Linked DNA regions of Homo sapiens: region 2 is linked to region 1. The links come from fine-mapping of genetic effects on gene expression. Tissue or cell type: whole blood. Region 1 holds a variant in brackets; the other region holds the start of a gene. All regions are shown on one strand. Distances are from middle to middle.

Evidence for each region. PIP is the estimated chance that this variant, and not a neighbour inherited with it, causes the effect.
Region 2: it holds the start of GCM1, and the variant in region 1 is the best candidate, but not a certain one, in a credible set for the expression of GCM1 in whole blood (INTERVAL, PIP 0.53).

The regions. Positions count from the first base shown.
Region 1 is chr6:53,206,659-53,209,574 of GRCh38, reverse strand. No RefSeq gene overlaps it. Among named protein-coding and RNA genes, the nearest start is that of GCM1, 59 kb to the right of the region's middle. RefSeq lists an enhancer at 1,741-1,910. The variant A/G (reference allele first, on the strand shown) is at 1,208.
Region 2 is chr6:53,147,403-53,150,318 of GRCh38, reverse strand. GCM1 (glial cells missing transcription factor 1) reads left to right here and starts at 1,478. Exons shown (of 6, transcript NM_003643.4): 1 at 1,478-1,565. It also overlaps the pseudogene LOC124901513.

The DNA.
Region 1 (2,916 bases):
GAGATTGAGGCTGCAGTGAGCCATGTTCGTGCCACTGCACTCTCTCCTGGGTGACAGAGCAAGACCCTGTCTCAATTTAAAAAAAAAGAAAAAGAAAAGGGCCAGGCATGGTGGCTCACACCTATAATCCCAGCACGTTGGGAGGCCGAGGTGGGTGGATCACAAGGTCAGGAGATCGAGACCATCCTGACTAACATGGTGAAACCCCGACTCTACTAAAAATACAAAAAAAAATTAGCCAGGAGTTGGGGCAGGCACCTGTAGTCCCAGCTACTTGGGAGGCTGTGGCAGGAGAATGGCGTGAACCCAGGAGGCAGAGCTTGCAGTGAGCCAAGATCGCACCACTGCACTCCAGCCTGGGTGACAGAGCGAGACTCTGTCTCAAAAAAAAAAAAAAAAAAGAAAAGAGGCCAGGCGCGGTGGCTCACTCCTATTATCCCAGCACTTTGGGAGGCTGAGGGAGGTGGATCACCTGAGGTCAGGAGTTTTAGACCAGCCTGACCAGCAAGGTGAAATCCCATCTCTACTAAAAATACAAAAATTAGCCAGGTATGGTGGCAGGTACCTGTAGTCCCAGCTACTAGGGAGGCTGAGACAGGAGAATTGCTTGAACCTGGGAGGCAGAGGTTGCAGTGAGACAAGATCGCGGCACTTCAGTCCAGCCTGGGCAATAGAATGAGACTCCCTCTCAAAAAAAAAAAAAAAAAGAAAGAAAGAAAGAAAGAAAGAAAAGAAAACATTTAAGAACTTATAAATGCCCTTTCTCATCTCATCCAGCGTTGGGACGAGGCCTGCAGAGGATGTGTTCTGGGTATTTGGTGGCCCTGCTGGTGAGCACTGGTGTTCCTTGAGGTCAACCTGTGCTGAGGACAGGAATATTTCACCCAAGTACATAACTAAGAGAAGATCACTCCCAGAAGATTTCATCCCCAAAAGCAAGAAGGTGAAGGACACTTGTACCCAGACAGTGAGATCCACTGCCTCCTTGCCATGCTTTTAGCTCCCCCCACAGCTGAGCCCTCCTGACCAGAAAACCTGACGGGGCCACCTTCTTCATCCCTCAGTCTCACAGAGGTCCCATAAAACTGAACCAGGCTTGGTGCTGACAGTGGGCCAGGGCAATGTAGGCTCACTGGAGCTGGGTGAGAGTGTGACAGGGAGCGTCAAAGTCAAAATAAAAATATAAAGACAAATCTCTAAATGTAAT[A/G]TTTCTCCTTAGGAATCACAGAATTGCAATTTGGTGCACACACACAGATGGGGTGGTCTTCAGTGTGTCCGAAGGACAAAGAGAAGGTTAGGAGTTTTATTAGAAAGGGAAATATTACATATGGTTTTGAAAGAAAGCTCGTTGGCACTGGAGAAGATTTTGGGAGCTGGCAAGCTCCGATTGGTGAGTGACAGTAGTCGGTAAAGCTAGTCGTAGAGTCACAGCAGGGCATTTCAGCAGCTACTGGGTAAAACTGATCTTACCTATAGCAGGCCATTGCAGCAGCTGGGCTTGTGGAGAATTCAGTTATTGGATCAGTGCTATGTGCCCTGATGCTTTTCCAACCTGTCCTTTCTACTTTGATTTAGTTGGGTATCACAAGAATGACCCAATTTGCATAATAAACATTCAAAAGAAAAAGTAGCCAGCGCTGGTGCTGGTTCAAGAGGATGCTGTGTAGGCTGAGGCTGGGGACAGGCACACCATATTATGTCTAAGCAAAATGGCCAGGTCTAGTGCTTCGGCTGCAATGAGGAGGGTGCCGTGGGAAGGGACGCATCAGTGGAGGTCTCAGAGATGGTCCCCGGAAAAGTGGAACTGCAAGAGAAGTTGATACAGGTGTCAGCAGGAGACAGTCATATAGTGGTCCTCACAGAAGATGGCCATGTCTTCCTCTGAGGCTGCTTCCAGAACAATTACAGTGTGATCAGGCTGTTAGATCCCATGAAGAAGAGCATGATGATTGTGCAAGTGCAGCTGGACATGCCCACGGTGAAGTTGGCCTCAGGAAATGGCCACTTGGTGATGCTGACAGCTGACAGTGACCTAGATACCTTGTGCTGTGGGAGCAAGGCCATCTGGGCCTTGTGCTTGAATTATGTGCCAACCGTGATGGCCGACAGGGCATGATTCCTGGTCCCCCAGATATGATGCTGAAATTCAGGGGAAGCTGGGACCTGATGCCCTTCTGTAGCACCTGCCTCACCATTCCATCCCCTATAAAGGGCACATACACAGAATATGGCTTTGGCCTCTTCAACAACCATCAGCTTGGAACCCCAGGCACAGAATCTTGCTTCATACCCCAGAACCTGGGATCCTTCAAGAACTCTACCAAGTCCAGGCCAGGCGCAGTGGCTCACGCCTGTAATCTCAGCACTTTGGGAGGCTGAGGCGGGCGGATCACAAGGTCAGGAGATTGAGACCATCCTGGCTAACAAGGTGAAACCCCGTCTCTACTAAAAATACAAAAAAAATTACCTGGGCGTGGTGGTGGGCACCTGTAGTCCCAGCTACTTGGGAGGCTGAGGCAGGAGAATGGCGTTAACCAGGGAGACGGAGCTTGCAGTGACCCGAGACCATGCCACTGCACTCCAGCTTGGGTGACAGAGCAAGATTGCGTCTAAAAAAAAAAAAAAAAGAAAAAAAAAAGAACTCTACCAAGTCCAGGTAGGCTTCTCTGGTGGCCAGCACCATACAGTCTTCGGGGATTCAGAAGGAAAAGCATGCAGCCTGGGCCAGGCTGAATATAGACGGTGGGCCTTCATGGGTGCTAAGGAGAAGAACATGCCCACCCTCATCTCCAGGCTGGTGCCATCTTCTCAGTCTCCTCAGTGGCTTTGGGCCTCTGTAGGGTAAACTGTGATCAGTGATGGACGTGTTTTTGCCTGGGACATGGACAGCAACTACCAGCCGGGCTTAGAGCGGGA
Region 2 (2,916 bases), 59 kb after region 1:
AACTCCGTTTCAAAAAAAAAAAAAGATGAAGCAGGGTCTTAAACTTCAGGCAGGAAAGGAATTTGTTCATGAACTGAAAGACGAATGAGAAATCTATTAGGGGCCGCCGAATGCAACTATGAGGCTTTCCAAGCCTTTTGCCTTCTCGCCTTCTCATCTCTGCCTCCTAAGCCTCATCCTTGAAAGTCTGGACCTTCCTGACAGGTACTGATCCCTCGTCATGTTGTCCAGGATATTGTCACTCCCCGAAACACCCTCTTCCAGTCCTTCACGCCTTGATAAATATCTATTTGTCCTTCAAAAGGCTCATCGAGCATTATTTTGGTGGGTTTCCTTTGGTTCTCCTCCCTCCAGCTTAATAGCCTTCTCATTTATATTACTTTTATTCTATACATCAAATTAAATCGGCCTTATTTAGTAGCTTTAATCATCTTTTCTACTAGAATGAACTTCTTAATGGCTTTCATTCTCTCTTGTGTTGCCAAGGCCTGGCAGACTACCTAGAACAAAACATATGAACTGAACTGATTTAGGCTGTACTGCGGATGTCTCTAAAAGGAAGAATAGCACTGAGGGTATCTCTAGAAGAAATAATTGGTTTTTGTTTGTTCGTTTTTTTTTGTTGTTTTGTTTTGTTTTGTTTTTGTTTTTTTGAGATGGAGCCTCGCTCTGTCACCCAGGCTTGACTGCAGTGACGCAATCTCAGCTCACGCAACCTCCGCTTCCCGGGTTCAAGCAATTCTCTGCCTCAGTCTCCCAAATAGCTGGGATTACAGGCGCTCGCCACCACACCTGGCTAATTTTTGTATTTCTAGTAGAGACGGGGTTTCACCATCTTGGCCAGGCTGGTTTTGAACTCCCAACCTTGTGATCCGCCCACATCGGCCTCCCAAAGTGCTAGGATTACAGGTGTGAGCCACCACGCCCGGCCAAGAATTGTATATTTTTAGGGGATCAGAACACTTAGAATTAGTGGGACATTATTGCTAGGGTTAAGATAGCATTTCAGTATTTCTGGTATAGAGGATGTTGGCTATCCACTGTCTATTCCAGTAAATTTCCTCACCATAATATCTCTCTATCTCTGTCTGTCTGTCTTCTCTCTCTTGCACACATGAGAGAGAACTATTACCTGCCGGGTAAATAGTGGGAGAATTAGGACCTACTGTGAATCGTCTGCCTGGGGCCCAACCTGTAACATCACAAGAAGAAAAACATCTGTACTTCCTTATGAGGTTCTTTTCAATGTCCATTTTAGTTCAAATGTCCTCATAACATAAAGGGAGGGGGAAGTTCAGAGACACATCATAGAATATTCATCACATTGCTGGCATTCTGGGAAGAATCAGGCTGGTTAAGTGACTCCCAGGCTGCTCTTACCTATCCAGAGCCTAGAGCATCTAGATTTTGATTGGACCATTGCCAGAACTCATTAGCATAGTGTACCCTGACCTGGAATAGGGAACAGCGTCTGCTCAGAAAATGACCAGAGCCTGCTGGGACTTGAACCAGCAGTAAGATTTTCACGACACAGTGCTGTCTGCTTCTCCGTAAGAAGTTAGAAGGTAAGAAAGCCAGAAATCCCGTGGAGAGGCAAATGTAAGGGATGTGGCAACGACCACTCTATTCCTACAGGGTTTCATTTGTTCTAGTTCATTTTTCTGTAGAAATGATGAAAATTGAATATACTTTGCGCAAGTTGCTTTAAAAAAAGGAGTCTTGACAAGTGTAGTTTTTCAATCCTAGAAGAGGAAAACAGAGTTTACTTAAGGGCTGTAAAATGGTTTTTTCTTCTTTTCTATGTTTTGTTCTTAACTTTTAGGGAAATATTAAATTAATGCTCATTCGCTTAGCAAATGTTAATATCGAGAGAAAAATCTAAAATGTAACATAGTTGTTCTGTAATAAAATTTTCTTTATTATTCTTCCCTTAATTTAAAAACAAAATAATTATGTCTATATTGCCTAGGCTTTATAACAATGTTTTTGATTTTTGAAAATATGAATCTTATTTGCCAAGGTTTTTAAAAAGTAGATCTATTCCAATTAGTTATAACAAAATTTGCACCATCAGAGACAATATCGTTACTGTTCAGGGTAAGTACACGGAACTGCTGCTTGGTATCTGCATCTTCTATACCTGTTATTTAAGTCCTTTGAATTAGAGTCAATTTGCGGCATCATTTCTTCAGTAACACAATGTTTCTTTCCTAAACATAGAATTTTACTTAAAATCCATGAGGATTTAGTCTTGAAAATCAACATTCAGTTGGGGAACAGAAACTTCGTGCTCTGCAACCACTAGGTTGTAGCTCAGTATGGGTATGTGGAACAGACAGGAAGAGACTCTGATTAGCTTGTCATTTAATGGTCAAGAACTTTATTTATAAAGACTATACTTTCAGGGATCATTTCTATAGTTTGTTACTAGAGAAATTTCTCTGGACATCTAGAGCACACACAAAAAAGAAAAAAGGAACTTCATTCTTATGTTCAGGTCAACGGTCTTTTATATACATACACTTTCCCTTGGTAGAGTTCAGTGATTGACAAGTATTAGGATTATATAACACTAAATAACTAAAGAACAGGCCGGGCACAGTGGCTCATGCCTGTAATCCCAGCACTTTGGGAGACAGAGACGTATGGATCACCTGAGGAAAGGAGTTCAAGACCGGCCTGGTCAACATGGTGAAACCCCATCTCTACTGAAAATACAAAAATTAGCTGGGTGTGGTGGTGCGTGCCTGTAATCCCAGCTACTTGGGAGGCTGAGGTAAAAGAATCACTGGAGCCCCAGAGGTGGAGGCTATGGTGAGCTGAGATTGCGCCACTGCACTCCAGCCTGGGTGATAAGAGTAAGACTCCATTAAAAAAAAAAAAAAAAAAAAAACAATAAAAACTAAAGAAAAGAGT